Linked DNA regions of Homo sapiens: region 2 is linked to region 1. The links come from fine-mapping of genetic effects on gene expression. Tissue or cell type: whole blood. Region 1 holds a variant in brackets; the other region holds the start of a gene. All regions are shown on one strand. Distances are from middle to middle.

Region 1 (8,000 bases):
GGAGCAACTTTCCCCAAGGCCCACAGCTCTGGAATGTGGCTCTGACTGACTGGATCTATGGGGATGTTCAAAAATAATTTTGATGTACGTTGCCAAATTACCCTAGAGGTTCTACCAACTTATAGTCTGCCAGCAATGAATGATAGTTTGAACCAGGTACTTTTTTGACCATTTCCTTAAAATGTTAATTTTAAAAGTCATGAGGTACATAGCAAAGGATCCCATAACAGGTGCCTTCAGAACGAAACCCCCCTGCGATGGTGTTCTTGGGATTCTGGGCTTTAGAACCGTTCTCTGTGGGGAATCTCCCTTACGGTGAGAGATTCTTCTTCAGAGGCATGAAGTTTTTTGTGTTTTTCTAAAGACGAGGTCTCCCTATGTTGCCCAGGCTGGTCTTGAACTCCTGGGCTTGAGCAATTCTTCCACCTCAGCCTCCCAAGAAGCTGGGACTACAGGCTTGCACTACTGTGCCCAGCTAAGGCATGCAGTTTTGGACTAGTGGCTATGAGATGTTAGCAGACTGTGGTATCCTGAGAGTGAGGAGGCAATGGCAGCCCTGTAGATCTGAGAACACTGTACTGGTAGCAAAAAGAGCACTTTGAAAAAGATGGCACCAAGCAGGCATTCCTAGGGATGTTTTTGGATTGGCACTTAACTCTCGATCCTGATGGCTTCGCTGTGGGGTAGTTGAGAGGATCCAATTCACTCAACAGGTATTTACTCAGTGCTTATATTGAATGGTGGGCCTGCTCCTCACCCCAGTTGCTGGGAGGGGCAATGAGCACAGCCACCCAAGAACCATGGTGAAACCATCTTGACCTCAGACCCTGCACACTGAACACCCGGCTCCCATGCTCGAGCCACCTCTGCTGTAGGTAGCAGGAATCTGGTGGTCACAAGACGAGTTTTCAGTGTGGTAAAGGGAGGCAGCAAATAAACCAAGCAGTATATTATCTTTATTTTTATTTTTTGAGACAGAATCTCACTTTGTTGCCCAGGCTGGAGTGCAGTGGTGTGATCTCGGCTCACTGCAACCTCCGTCTCCCGAATTCAGGCAGTTCTGCCTCAGCTTCCCGAGTAGCTGGGATTACAGGTGCCCATCATCATGCCTGGCTAATTTTTGCATTTTTAGTGGAGACAGAGTTTTGCCATGTTGGCCAGGCTGGTCTCAAACTCCTGACCTCAAGTGATCTGCCTGCCTTGGGCTCCCAAAGTGCTGGGATTACAGGTGTGAGCCACTGCGCTCACTAAACCAAGCAGTATAAAACCACCTACCAGGTGGTGAGGGATGCAAATGAGCTACCCTCATTTGCGGGTATACCCTATATGTGAGAGAACTCCAGAAAATGCAGGTATTCAACATGTTCGAGGATTTGCCTTGGCAACAAGTAGATCTGCTTCCCACCTAACTCTACTGTGGCTGCTAGGTTATCCTGAGTCATGTCAAATTACCTTAAAAACTGGATGGTATGGTGGCTGATGCCTGTAATCCCAGCACTTTGGGAGGCTGAGTCAGGAGGGTCACTTGAGCCTGGGAGTGCCATGATCATGCCAGTGCACTCCAGCTAGGGTGGCAGAGTGAGACTCTGTTTAAAACAAACAAACAAACAAAAACACTTAAAAATGGGGAAAACCAATTATGGTTACATAGAAATTAGGAGCATGTAAAAGTACATTATTAAACCACTTCATGTATTTTTTCTCTTCAATCATTTGGGGAGAATTCTTCTTGGTTTAAGAACTTATTATCCACAGCACAGCATATGTATGACTTTGTCCCTTATTTTAAATTCTGAAATTCTGGGAATTTGTCCCCGAGTCCTGGGAACTCTGTCTTCCCAACCATTAAACTACAGCAGAAAATAAATCCAAGGGGCAATTTGTATTGTGACCATAGTAGAATGCCTGTGTCTTTTCTTTAAAGGCTGTTGAAATTTATGAAAAATGTGCCTTTATTTTCTCAGACCTGAGCCATTCATGTACTGGGTATGGGTGGTTGGGTGGGTCCAGGAGTGTGCAACTCCCTCCATTATCCGCCTTGTTCGGGGTTTGCTGCTCTGACCCCTACTTTGCTTTTCAGATGACTTTGGGAAATTGCTGCTGGCTGAGGCCCTCCTGGAGCAGTGTTTGAAGGAGAACCATGCCAAAATAAAAGACTCCATGCCTTTGCTGGAGAAGAATGAGCCGAAGATGAGCGAAGCCAAAAATTATCTAAGCAGTATCCTTAACCATGGGAGGCTCTCGGTAAGTCGTCAGCCTTCAAGCCTGAGACCTCCTCTCCTCGTCTGTCTTGCCTCGCATCTGTCCAGTCCTCCCTGAGTCATTTGGTCACCTGAGCAACAAGTCTCTCTTACAAGCTGCCCTTGCACTTACAGTAGCCACTGGCTGCACATGGCCCCTTGAGCACTTGGAGTATGGCTAGTCCACATTGAGATGTGCTGTAAGTATAAAGCATACACAAGGTTTCAAAGACTTAGTACAAAACAAAGAATAGAAAAGAGCAGTAACTTTTTATGTTGATTACATGTTCAGATGGTATATTTTGGATATATTGGGTTAAATAAAACATGTTATTAAAATTAATTTCACCTTTTACCTTTTTCAGTGTGACTAAAAAAAATCTTAGTAGAAATTTTTAAATTACACATGTGGTTCACATTTGTGGCTTACATCATATTTTTTTGGACAGTGCTTGGTTGACTTAATATGTGCCTGGCCCTTTGGGCTCCTTGGGTCAGGGGGCTCTCAGGAAAATAAAACCTCAGTGAACCTGTGACCTAGTTAGAAACAGGCAAACATGCAGAGTTGGCTAGGGACAGAAGAGCTCCATAACAGGGCAAGCCCATTTAAGTCCACGTGTATTTATCAAGCACCTACTGAGTACAAGACACTGAGGGAGGTAGAGGACCCACCTCTCCCTCCCAGAAGGAGTATGGTCACAACTTTCTCTGGACTTTGCTGCTCAAAATGTGGTCCACCCACCAGCAGTGTAGGCATCATTGGGGAGCTGGTTAGAAATGCAATTAAGAGAAAAAAAAAAAGAAATGCAATTAAGAATTAGAATCTGTGTTTTAACAAGCTCTCCTGGGTGATTCATATGTGCATCCAAGTTTGAGGCTGTGGCTGTGTTAGATTACAATGTATCCTGAACTATAATAGTGGCATGGGTATGTCATTAGAAACTCAAAAGAGGAGGGGGAGGGGGTAAAAAAAAACTCAAAGAGGAAGTGATCCCTCCCTCCCTCCCTTCCTTCCTTGCTTCCTTCCCCTCTGTCTCTCTCTTTCTTTCTGTCTTTCTGTCTGTCTTTATTTTCTTCAGGGTCTCGCTGTGTTACTCAGGCTGGTCTCCAACTCCTGGGCTCAAGCGATCCTCCTACTTCAGCCTCCCGAAGCGTTGGGATTACAGGAGTGAGGCACTGCGCCCAGCTGATTTTTAAAGAGCTATTCCAAAGTAATATATTCACTTCCTTAAACCTTTTATTCCAACGTACTGTGTGCAAGGCATTGTGTTGTGCACTCTGAAGGCAATCAAGACGAATCCAGCATGGACCCTGCCCTCAAGGAGGTTGCAGGTCTCTTGGGAAGATAAGTCCTATCAGCAAGTAAATAGCCTTCCTCCAAGGTAGACCGTGATAGGAGTG[C/T]TATCCACGAGGAAGCAAGTCTGAGGGGGATGCTCTTTGGGGATAAGCAGAGAGCAGACTCTGAGTAATGGCAGTACTAGAATTGGATCCTTCTGGGGCTGGATCTAGACAAGGTTGTAAAGGTACTTTGGGGCTAGTAAGGGCAGACTGGAACACCAGGCCAGGATGTGCAGGGCTTATTTTGTAAGGGAGGGAAAGGCCAGGGGAGAGGGGAGTGTGTACTAGAAGTTTAAGGTTACTGCTTTTAGGCTCCTTGACAGGTATTGTAGCACTGGGAGGTTTGTATTGGGTTAAAATAGCTGCCTGACCCTGAGCATGCTTGACCCCACAGACCTTCCAGTTTCTCATCTGCTGGTCAAAAGGGTTGGACCAGATTGGTGGGGTTCAAGCTTTTCCCACCAAGACCGCTTTTCGTTTTAAAAATATTAAATTAATAATTAAATGTTAAATTAAATATTTAAAAATTGTTTTTAAAATAAACATGATTCAGCCTTATTGTAAAAATTCCAGTCAACAAATAAGTAATTTGAGTGATAAATAAAAGTCCCAGCTGGCCTATGGCTCACGCCTGTAGTCTTAGCACTTTGGGAGGCTAAGGTGGGAGGATTGCTTGAGCCAGAAGTTTGAGATCAGACTGGGCAACATGGTGAGACCCCATCTCTACAGAAAATTTTTTTAATTAGCTAGGCGTGGTGGCTTGCACCTGTGGTCCCAGCTACCCAAGAAGCTGCGGCTGGAGGGTCACTTGAGCCTAGGAGGTTGGGGCTGCAGTGAGTTGTGTTCATGCCACTGCACTCCAGCCTGGGTGACAGAGCAAGATCCTGTCTCACACACACAAAAAAAGTTCTTGTTTTCCAACCTCACCCTCATGCCCACACCCATCCTCAGAGTTGAGCACTGGTCAGTATTTGATGTGCATCTCCTATGCCTTTCTTTGTGCATTTACAAACATATATACACACAGATATTTCTTTTCATAGAGTTGTAAGATATATATTTTTCACCAAGAAGTTTTATTTAGAGCTTTCTCCATGCCAGTATTGTCTCATTCTTTGTATTGGCTGAATAGTAACCACATGTATTGTGACAACGGTTTTATTAAATACAAATTGTACCATATTTTGTTAAACAAAGACATATATAGGCACCAATAATGTGCAGAAATTTACTGTTATCCAGGCCAGAGCCAAAAACTTAATGATGATCTGTAAAATAATATATTAAATGTCGTTTGTGGGATTCTTTTTTGAGACAGGGTCTCACTCTGTCACCCAGGCTGGAGTGCAGTGGCGTGAACATGGCTCACTGCAGACTGGACCTCCTGGGCTCAAGTGATCATCCTGCTTCAGCCTCCTGAGTAGCTGGGACTATAGGCATGCACCACCACACCCAGCTAATTTTTAAATTTTTTTGTAGAGACAAAGTCTTGTCATATTGCTCAGGCTGGTCTTAAACTCCTGGGATCAAGCAGTCCTGTCACCTGTGCCTCCCAAAGTGCTAGGATTACAGGCGTGAGCCACCATGCCCGGCCATCATTTGTAGTATTTTCTATCTCACCCGCAAAGATCAGGTCACAGTTGGCGTGACCTTTCTTGGCAGCTGATGCAGTCTCAGGTGGATTCCTGTGCATCCAAGTAGCTCTGCTGGATGAGAAGGAGAGCTGGGAGAGGTGGGTCCTGAGGCCCCTCCTTGGGAAAGCTTGAAACCCTTTCCTCTTGGTTATCTCTCTAAGACCCCGTCCAGCTCAGTTGTGTGGAGATCAGTGAAAACAAGCCACTTGTCCTAAACTCTGTTCTGCTACTAGGTTGAGGCTTTGCACCATCGCATGCAGGCCTCCAAGGAACCTTCTGCAACGGTATTTACTATTAGCCCCATTTCTTTTTCTTTCTTTCTTTCTTTTTTTTTTTTTTCAATTTTTTGTAGAGACACAGTTCTTACTGTGTTTCTCAGGCTGGTCTCAGATTCTGGGTTTCAAGCGATCCTCTTGCCTTGGTCTCCCAAAGTGCTGGGATTACAGGTGTGAGCCACTGTGCCCTGCCAAGCTCCATCTCTTGAGACCCAAGAAAGGTGATCACAACCCAGGCCTTTAGTGTCTACAGCCCATGCTCTAATGCTGTCTCTCATTTCTTGGTACTGCCTCCCAGAGTACTGGGGTGGAAATAAAATAATGACTGGGAAAGTTGGATTCATGTGAAAGATGGTGATCACACCCCCACTTTTATAGTTCCCACGTTAGTCTGTGAAGTATTTCCTCATCCGTTCTTTCCTCATACCTGGATATCTCCATGAAGTCCTTTTTCCCCTTTTATTGACAGGGACAGTGAGGCACAAAAGGAGTAGGTGATGCGCTGATCCACACAGTAGAGGGGATTGTTCCTCTGGTAAAGCGACCTCCCCCGTGGCACCCTCCCACTGGGCAAGGGGTTCCGTTCCCTGACTGTTGTACTGATAGACCAAGAATATTTCACATTCAAATGCATGGGCCCCACAGAGTGCAGTGGACTCTTAATGTTGCCAAGTAAGGACATTAAGAAGCAAAAAATAGCAGCAAAATGATACCATCTTCTGCTCTTACTGTGCTATAACAGAAAAACAGTTTAGCATTGAAAGGGCAAGGTAGATATCCTTTCAGAACTAAGAGCCTTTTTTTTTTTTTTTTTTTTGAGACAACGGAGTCTCGCTCTGTCACCCAGGCTGGAGTACAGTGGCACGATCTTGGCTCACTGCAACCTCCGCCTCCCGGGTTCAAGCGATTCTTCTGCCTCAGCCTCCCAAGTAGCTAGGATTACAGGCGCCCACCACCACGCCCGGATAATTTTTGTATTTTTAGTAGAGACGGGTTTTACCATGTTGTCCAGGCTGGTCTCAAATTCCTGATCTTAGGTGATCTGCCTGCCTCGACCTCCCAAAGTGCTGGGATTACAGGCGTGAGCCACCGTACCCGGCCGAGCATTTTTTTAAATAGTGTAAATGTGGCTTTATAAAACATGCCCTGCATTGTCTAATTTTTCCCCAGCTTGGTGGAAGCTCTGTTGTAAACTGCCACTGGTCCTCCAGGAACCGCCACTAGCCACACCCCATCAGCATGCCTGAAATGTCCTTCTCTGCCTCACTGCCCTTGTCTCCATGTGCAGGATAATGATAAATACGCATACCCTGTATTTATCTTGCTCTTTTCCAAAGAAAAGTTCAAAGCTCTTTTCTGGACTTTGCCCTATTAATGCCTTCAGCATCGCTGTGATAGGCAGTGAGGAGTAGGTGTTATTATCTCTCCCTCACCCACGAGGAAGACGCAGCCCGAGCAGGGAGGAAATGAGCCCGTGGCTTGAGACCAGTGCAGGGAACGCAGAGTCACTGCCCAGCTTGGAAGGACTGTGGGCCACATACCTCTGGGATGTGTCATCTGTGGCCCTGGCCCAGGGAGTGGATGGCCTATCTGGGAAGACTAGCAAATCCCCTCAAAAGATTCAGCTTTGGAGAGTTAATTAATAGAGAGAGCAGGTCAGGCGTGCAGAGGCTGAATGGGCCCATTGGTAGAGGCATTGGAGGAGTTCAGCTGAAGGGAGCTCCCTGGTAGTCAAGGAGGCTTTCAGGAGAAGGTGGGCCTGAGCAAGGCCCCAAAGGATAGAAGAGGACCTGGTTAGGCCAGGGGGAAGGGGACCTGAGGAAGCACAGGCAAAAGAGGAATGTGGATTTACAAAGGCCAGAAGGACCAGTTGGGAAGGTGAATTTGGCTTCCCCAGAGCCTGTCTGTGCCACGCTTCATTTCTCTTGGCTTCTGAGAGGGCAGTAGATGGTAAGGAGTGCTGGAGGCTTGCCCTGGGGTCACAGGGACCCCAGACTCTTACCTCCCTACAGGGAGACAGGGGTAGCACCTTCCTGCCAGTGACAAATGCCAGGTGTGGGATGAGAGCTGCATCTTCGGGGAGTTTTATGGACAGATTGGTGCCTGTGTGGCGGGAGCAGTGCCCAGGGCCTGGCCCATAGGCATTGTGAGCCAGCTGAGGACAGGATCAGAGGCAGGGGGCCAGAGCAAATGGCCTGCAGAGGCGGGAGGTTACAAGGAGAACTGGGGCCATGTCCAAGGTCAGAACTCACGTGCCAGGGTGGCACAGCCCAGGGCCAGCACAGCCTCCCTCAGGCAACAGCACAGGATCCCAAGCCACAGTAGGGGTGATCATGGCTGACAAGACCACTGCAGGCCCTAAGGGAGGCCCTGAGAGTTCCTCTGTGGGATGGAGATTGAGATGTAAGCAACTTTTGAAAAAGGAGGGGAAAGAAAACACGTTTAAATTCAGCCACTCTTGGCCTCCGTGATTCTGCACTTTGACCCATTTCTGATAGGAAGAGGATGGTGAC
Region 2 (8,523 bases), 37 kb before region 1:
CACCACGTCCAGCTAATTTTTGTGTTTTTAGTAGAGACAGGGTTTCACCATCTTGGCCAGGCTGATCTCGAACTCCAGACCTCAGGTGATCCACCCGCCTCGGCCTCCCAAAGTGCTGGGGTTACAGGCATGAGCCACCGTGCCCGGCCACCTCAGACCTTTTATATCTGTAGTTTAAAAAAAAAAAAAAGCAATATGTCATACTTAATAGGAAAGAATGCTCAATATATATTGAATGAAAAAGAACAGGCTGCAAAAAAGCAATAAAGAATAATACACTTTTGTAAAATAAAAATGTGTATTTCCTACACAAACTAATAACAAAGATTATCTTGAGACATGAGATTAGAATTGTGATTTTCAGCCGGCATGGTGGCTCGTGCCTGTAATCCCAGCACTTTGGGAGGCCGAGGCGGGCAGATCACGAGGTCAGGAGATCGAGACCACCCTGGCTAACACGGTGAAATCCCGTTTCTACTAAAAATACAAAAATAAAAATTAGCCAGGCGTGGTGGCGGGCACCTGTAGTCCCAGCTACTTGGGAGGCTGCGGCAGGAGAATGGCATGAACCCGGAGGTGGAGCCTGCAGTGAGCCGAGATCTGCTACCATTTTTTATGAATATGTATTCAATGTAATCTATCCCATAATTTTGTCCCAATACTATATGGATCGGATACAAAAGGAGTTTCCGGTTAATTCTTATCTCCACAAAATAATTCAGAAACAGTCAGAAACTACACTTCCAATTTTACCAAATAAAAGTGCCCAGACCTTGGCCAGGGACAGTGGCTCACATCTATGATCCCAACACTTCGGGAGGCCGAGGCAAGTGGATCACTTGAGGTCAGGAGTTTGAGACCAGCCTGGCCAATGTGGCAAAATGCGTCTCTACTAAAAATACAAAAAAAAATTTGCTGGGCATGGTGGCGTGCACCTGTAATCCCAGCTATTTGGGAGGCTGAGGCACAAGAATTGCTTGAACCCGGGAGGCAGAGATTGCAGTGAGCCAAGATCACACCACTGCACTCCAGCCTGGGCAAGAGAGTGAGACTGTCTCAAAAAAATTTTTTAAACGTGTCCAGACCCTGACAAGGCCACTGCCACTGTACCTGGTACCACAAAACAAGGTTTCAGGTTACTCCTAGCAGTGACTGCCTAGGCCATAGCAGAACAACTTGTTCTGACCACACATCTTAGAGTTCTGGGACAGGAAGGATCAGAGAAGGGAATCAAGCTCCTCCCAAGCCTTTCAGACTCATTTACATCAAATGTCTCTTTCTCCAGTGAGGTCTTTTCAATTCCAAGTCTGGTGTAGGTATTCGTCCTGCAGGCTCCCAAGTGCTTCCCTTCAGAAGGCTCCCGTCCACAGCTGATGACAGCTGCAAATTAATTCTTTTTTTTCTTTTGTTTTCTTGTGTGTGAATGAATTCTTGAAAAACTGCCTGATTACTTGTCAGTGCCCCTTGCTGGATGGGCTTTAAGAGGACTTGGACTGAATCCACATTCCCAGTATCAGGCACAGTGCCTGGAACAGAAGCTGCTGGTTCTTAGCCTGTGTGCCATGGTCCTTGGGGAGCTGGGGGGATTACCACCTTTGCAGATATGCTGCCAATTTTTAATGTCACTGTAACTGAAGATGAAACTTTTCTTTTGGAGATATCTATCATGGAACTCATGGCACCATTTCCTCCAACTATGTGATTGGATGCTTAGTATATCAATTTGGTGTGTGTGTGTTGGGGGTGGGGGAAATTCTATTTAGATAACACCAAAAAGCAACCAAGTGATTAATCATGTAGTAACTATGAGTCCAAAATATCCCTTCTTTAAGGGAGGTGGGATAAAGGCCAAGAATCACTGATTTTGAACTTGTCTCATTTTGGTTTGCTGTTGCAGGTTTCTAATCATTGGAATGCAACAAAAGCCAAATCGATAAACATAAAGAAAAAAAATTCCTCCAAGTGGTACACTGAAAACAGGGAATCGGGCTGGGCATGGTGGCTTATGCCTGTAATCTCAATACTTTGAGAGGCTGAGGCAAGTGAATCACTTGAGCCCAGGAGTTCAAGACCAGCCTGGACAACATGGTGAGACTCCCTCTCTAATTAGAAAAAGAGAGAGAGAGAGAGGAAGAAAGGAAAGAAGGCAGGCGAGGGAGGGAAAGATAGAAAACAGGGAATCTAACTGCCACCTAACAAATTAAACTGCTGACAGTCAAGAGAAAGCATAAGCAACTCCCTCTACCCAAATAACAGGTTGCATCATCCATGCTCTAACTACTTAGCTCAAGGCCATGGGCTAACAGCCTGAAGATAAGCCCCAGCTCACTGGCCTTCTTTAGGAAATTATAAAGGCCAGGCTGAAGAAAAACCCAACGGAGGAGAAATTTCTGCAAAGGGACTTCAGGGCACAACCCATACCTTGAGACAGCCCTCACAAGGCGCAGCCTCAGTCCTGGGAGGGCAGTGCTGGACCATCAGGAGCAGTGCGCCTCCCAGTGCCTTGGCTGTCACAGTGCTCCCCTCCTGCTCTGCCAGCCTCTTCCTGTACCACAGCCTCCGCTCCTACTGGTTCCATCTGTCCATCTCCAACTTCCTTCCAGGACAGGTTCAAATGTCACCTCAGGATTCTTCCAGCCAAGACCAATTGCTCTCTCATCCGACCTCAGTCTGTAGCCTCTCACACTCATTTGACCTGAACATACGATCACAGGTTGTTCTCCTTTTCCATTTTTCTCTTTTCCTCCCTCTCTGAGAGTCAGGACCCTCTCTCCTCTGGCTCTCATTTACCTTACTGATCTCTGCTGAGCTGACCTGGCTCATCGCTGAATCAGGGAAGTGAGTCTTGGCACCTAGGTGTATTGTTCCCTATCCCACAGCGGATCTAGCCTAAGCTGGAACTTCCTTTGGAGGCTTCCAGTGGTTTGACCTGGCCCAACCCTTTCTTCCTGGTGTGTCATCAGTCCTATCAGCACTAAGTTTGGGGCCAGCCTTCCTGCCAGCAGCTAGTAGCAGCTTCTCCCTCAAGGGGCCCTTGGTTAAGAATTCAAACCCAAAGCAGCCAAACTCACCAACATCCAGACATCCTGTACCCACAGCCAATGCCAAAGAAAAACTGACCAGTACTTTGTCACTTACCCCTGTCATGGTCCTGGAATGAAGGCAAGAAAATAACCAACTTCCTAAGCTAAAGAAACCTCTACACGGACTGAGGGTTGAGAATTGGTTCTGAAAAAGCAGGCATTTAATATTAATAACTTGATCTATTTGTTCATCTAGGGAGCCCAAGGAGCACCCATGCTGCATTTATACATTTAATGACCGTACTAACAGCACAAGGTACTGAAGATAGTACTATGACCTCGACAAACTCCTCTCACACAGATTACAACCTGGTAGAAAAGAGAGACCGGCAGGCAGACACCCATGGGGTACCACGAAATCCCCAACTGACACCTGAAATAACACATAAAGGATAAGAAGGATTATTTCAACCAAAGGACAGTGCCTCAGACATAGCGAACATACTGAAGGAACATGTAAGCCCAGAAGGAACTTGTTCTGATCTAAGAACCAAAAAAGATTCAGTATGGTTGAAGACACAGTACAGTCGAGACAAATGAATCTAAAGTTAAAGGAAGACAGGTCATGAAGGGCTTTGCAAGCCCCGTTCAAGAGCTTGGAAGAGCAATGAGAATCCACCAAAGGGTGATAAGGGAATGGGGGGACGCTTCTGGTCACATGATCAGATTTCTGTTTTAAGACCATGGCTGTAGCCTCTCTGTATAGAACAAACTACAGAGGATGAAGAAGAGATGCAGGGATCATCAGGAAGACACCGAGGTAGTCCAGAGAAGAAAAGGTGGCCTGAACTAGGTAGGGCAGGGGGATGGGACTGGAGAATGAACGTATCCAAGACAACTTTGCAAGGGATTCGATGTGGGTGGGTAAAGGAGTGAAGCAAGTGAGAATGATGCCCAATTCTGGCTTGGGCACCCGGGTGGATGGCCATGCCCAGAGAGGGAATACAACAGGAGATCAGCTTCCCCCGCCGGGCCCGACAGGACCTGTGGTCTCCCCGAGAGAGGGAACAAGGAGCAGAGGGAGAGTAAGGCTTCCGGCCCGCTGCTTTTGGGCCGGGCCAGGAGCAGTGTCCACCCGACACAGCTGGTCCCACAGGCCGATCCTCGGGCCCCTAGGGACCAGGGAAGGGGGCGGAGATCTGCCCAGTCGGCCCCGTCTGGCTCCAGAGCCCCCGGTGGGGCACAGGCTTCCGCCCCGGGAGACAGGCCGTGCTCCTAGCCGGTTAAGCGTCCCGAGACGGCCTGGGGGCCCAGCCCGCGCCCCCAGACTACTCCTGCCTCTCATCTTGAGCCCAAGCCTCCAGCCCACAGGAGAGGCGCCGGGATCCCGCCCGCTGCGGAGAGTGCGCTAGTTCACTCACCCTTACGGTCTCCGAAGCAGACGCGAAGCCCTCCAACGTGAGCCTCACCAGCCCCCGTCCCCAAAACGCTCTTCCTCGGCTTCGCCCCGCCCCCCCCCCCCCCCCGACCTGCCCTGCGCACGCGCGCTCCCTGCCGCCCGCCCATTGGCGCCGCCGGGCCCCTCCCGCTGGCGGCGGCGGGCTGTGAGGACGGCTCGCGTGAGTCCACGTGTAATCGGCCCGGGCCCAGCACTGGCGGGACTGACGCAGTTCTTCTACCTGCTTTCCCAAGGGCGACACTCGGCTCCACTCCAGTTGGGCCGCTGGACGCCCTAGGGGCCCGGCAGTTGCTAGGCAACGCCGGAAGCCCTCAGGAACGTAGTTCCACGGGCGACGTAGGATGGCGGATCCGGATGGGGCGGACCCCAAAGCTGGCTCCCAACTCCGCTCACCCCCTCCTATACAGGGCTCTTGGTTCAGGTCTCTTGGTTCGTCCTGCTGCAAGTTGGGAAGAAAGATAATAGGAATGCTAATTCCTTCTTGATGAAACGACCACAACACGCTGGAGCCGGCCTTGGACCCTACGTTTCAAGATTGGCCTGCTTCCAGCGTCTGCCAGCTCCACTGCACAAGCTGCGGCAGCCGCTGTCCCCGTTCGCTTCCACGGGAGTCCCAGCAAGACTATGCGACCCAGTTCAAATACCATCTTCCATGTACCGTTCGTGAAATCAGCAGCTTTTGACATTCAAGAGAGGACAGATTACTTAAAAACAGACTCATGAACAAATAGGGAAACGAATACATCATCCCTGTATCGAATTCATCCCTGTATAATCCTGCCCTTACACCTGTGCTCCTATACAAGATTAACATTCAGTAAGTATCCATTGACCTGATGGATAAATGAGTGTAGGACGGTCGTTTTGTTTTTTTGTTTTGTTTTGTTTTGTTTTGAGACGGAGTCTCGCTCTGTCCCAGGCTGGAGTGCAGTGGTGGGATCTCGGCTCACTGCAACCTCCGCCTCCCAGGTTCAAGCTCTTCTCCTACCTCAGCCTCCCGAGTAGCTGGGATTACAGGCGCGTGCCACCTTGCCCGGCTAATTTTTGTATTTTTAGTAGAGACGGGGTTTCACCGTGTTGGCCAGGCTGGTCTCTAACTGCTGACCTCTTGATCCTCCCGCCTCAGCCTCCCAAAGTGCTGGGATTACAGGCGTGAGCCACCACTCCCGGCAGGACGGTCGTTTTTTTTAAAGCCCTTCTCCCATTTCTGTCCATAAAGGTACATAATCGTTTTTCAAATGAGCCTGGGTCCGGACAGGAAAGACAAAGAAAGTGGCTAAGTAGTTAGATGCCTTGAAAGTTGCCTAACGCCACTGCCATTGACGGTCTCATTCCTTTTCCCACCTTCATCTGAGATTGAAATCTGCCACCCCATCCCAGAGAAAAATCCCATAATCCCTAATTTTTTTTTCTTTTTTTAAAGAAAAGAGTCTCCATGGTGCCCAGCTCGTCTCGAACTCCTGGGTTCAAGCAATCCTCCCACCACCTCCGCCTCCCAAAGTGCTGGGATTACAGGGGTGAGCCACCGCGCCGGGACAAAGAATCCCTAAGTTTTGAGGAAACCCTATTAATTCAAGACCCATTCTTCTTTCCTTACTCTGAACTTTGGATTAGTTTGATCTAGTTCCTCCTTCTACCCTGCATCTGCCATTCATCCATCTCTTCATCCATTCATCCACCCCTCCCTTTGTTCATTTATTCATTCAATAACATTTCTTGAATATCTTCTATGTACTAGGCGCTCTACTAGGAGCTACTAGAGATACAAATAAGACAAATGAAGTGTCAAGAAGCTGGTGTCTGGTAGATGGATAAAGTGTCCTCATTCTAGCCAGTGCTTTCATTTTTTTCCTATGGATGTTATCCTGTGTTATGTCTCTCTTGAATCTACAGTCACTCCCTCTCTACCAGATAATTCCCATCAACATATAAACTTGCTGTATTTTCTCCCCCACCATACCACTGAAACTGCAATCTCCATGCAAATCTAGTGGTCTCTTTGATCTCTTGTTTTTATTTTACTTGCCCTCTCAACACTGTTTTATCAAAGCCAACCACTCTCACTTAGAAACACTTTCTTCTCTTGTTTTCTGACACCACACACTCTGGGTCCTTCTGCTACCTCACTCATTATCCTTTCTTGGGCTTCTTAATTGGCTTCTCAATCTATAATTATCAAAGTGTCCAGGGTTCTGTTCTGAGTCACCTTCTCTATCCACCCTCCCTATGTGAGTTTACCTAGTCCTGTGCTTTAGATACCATTTATAAATAGATGACTCCAAAATATGTCTCTCTGACAATGACCTCTCTGTGTAATTCCTGGCTCCTGTAAATAACTGCCTACTTGATGTCTCCATATGAATGTCAGACTGGCATCTCAAACTTAATGTGTCCCCCCAAAATCTTGATTTTCACCCCCAAACCTGCACCTCTCTCAGTCTTGTGCATTTTAGTAAATGTCACTGGTACTCATTCTGTTGTTCAAGCTAAAATTCTACGAGCTGTTTTTGATTTATCTCATCCCTTTACCTTTAAATCCTTCAGCAAAGCCTGTTGATGCTATCAAAATGTATCCTGAGTCTTTGACTTCTTTCCACCTCCACTAAACCATCTAGTCCAGTAGTAGATGATGCTGCTGGACTACTTGAGAGAGAGCTTCCTAACTGACCGTCCTGCTTCCATTCTTGCCCTACTGTAGTCCATAAGTGAGAAGCCACCTTTGATTAAGCCATTTTATAGGTGGGTGTTCTGTAACTTGTAGCTGAACCCATTCCTAACAGGCAAATAATTTGGTACCAGAAGCAGGATGCTAAAAACAAGACACTAAAATATGGAATTGGCTAACTGGAGGTTAAGGTAGCCAGTGTTAAAAGACTGTATGTCAAACTGGAAAGTTGGTGACCCTTATAAGCCGTAGTGAAACTGTCACTTGCTGGACCTTGGATATAGGCCACATGCCAACCAATGCTATATTTTTGGAGAAATCTCACGAGCAATATGGAACATTAGTGAGTGTTGCCTTTTTTAGTAGCTTTCAGCAGACTCCTTCAAGAGAAGGGCAACTCTACGTTGGAAATAACTGATTTGAAAGCAGAGATTAAAGAAAGTAACGACTAGGTAAGAGAGGATCTCTTTACCTGCAACCAGGAGTCTCATAACTTGGAACCTTGCTGAAATACCCCATTTACTTTGTGTACTCAGGTTGAAACTAGTACAAGTAGAGACAGAGAGGTGGCTTTATCAGGAGATAGGACGGCCATCCCAAGATACCAGAATGGCCTCTAGGTGGCATCTCTTTCCTCAGCTGTTTTGAATTGTCTCAAGACAATGTTTTACCTATGTAGGGGATTCCAGAGTGGATGAGAATAGGGGTGAAAATAAGATTTCAATTTACACCTTTTAGTATTGCTTTGATGTTGTAAACTACATATTACTTATTTGGAAAAATAAATAGAAAAATATTGAATAAAAACAATTTAAAGACTCTAGATAGGCTGGGTGTGGTGGCTCACGCCTGTAATCCCAGCACTTTGGGAGGCCGAGGCGGCAAATCACCTCAGGTCAGGAGTTCGAGACCAGCCTGGCCAGCATGGTGAAACCCTGTCTCTACTAAAAATACAAAATTAGCTGGGTGTGGTGACGCATGCTTGTAATCCCAGATACTCGGGAGGCTGAAGCAGGAGAATTGCTTGAACCCGGGCAGCAGAGGTTGAGGTGAGCTGAGATCGCACCATTGCTCTTCAGCCTGGGCAGCAAGAGCTAAACTCTGTCTCTAAATAAATAAATAAGACTTTAGGTAAGTTATTTGTGATTACTATACATGAAATTGATCAGAAGTCTAACAAATGATTGAGGTAATCCTGTGTCCCTAAAATCTCAAGCCTGGTTAACAACAGTCTCTTGCTGTTGGGCCCTGTGGTAATCTCTGAACCCTGGAATTCCTTCTAACAGGGAGTAGGATGCAAAAGGTGTGCGTTCTGCACAAGTAGAGGAAAAAACAAGGGTGCGGCTTCCAGATTCTCCAACTGAGAACTTAATACA

The links.
Region 2: MCFD2 starts here. The variant in region 1 is fine-mapped to the expression of MCFD2 in whole blood (TOPMed, PIP above 0.99).

The regions. Positions count from the first base shown.
Region 1 is chr2:46,948,283-46,956,282 of GRCh38, forward strand. TTC7A (tetratricopeptide repeat domain 7A) reads left to right here. Exons shown (of 20, transcript NM_020458.4): 2 at 2,081-2,244. Among named protein-coding and RNA genes, the nearest start is that of TTC7A, 11 kb to the left of the region's middle. RefSeq lists a silencer at 6,848-7,142. The variant C/T (reference allele first, on the strand shown) is at 3,642.
Region 2 is chr2:46,911,279-46,919,801 of GRCh38, forward strand. It overlaps MCFD2 (multiple coagulation factor deficiency 2, ER cargo receptor complex subunit), which reads right to left and starts at 4,528. Exons shown (of 4, transcript NM_139279.6): 1 at 4,445-4,528. It also overlaps a transcript of TTC7A not described here. RefSeq lists a silencer at 4,515-4,594 and an enhancer at 4,598-5,572.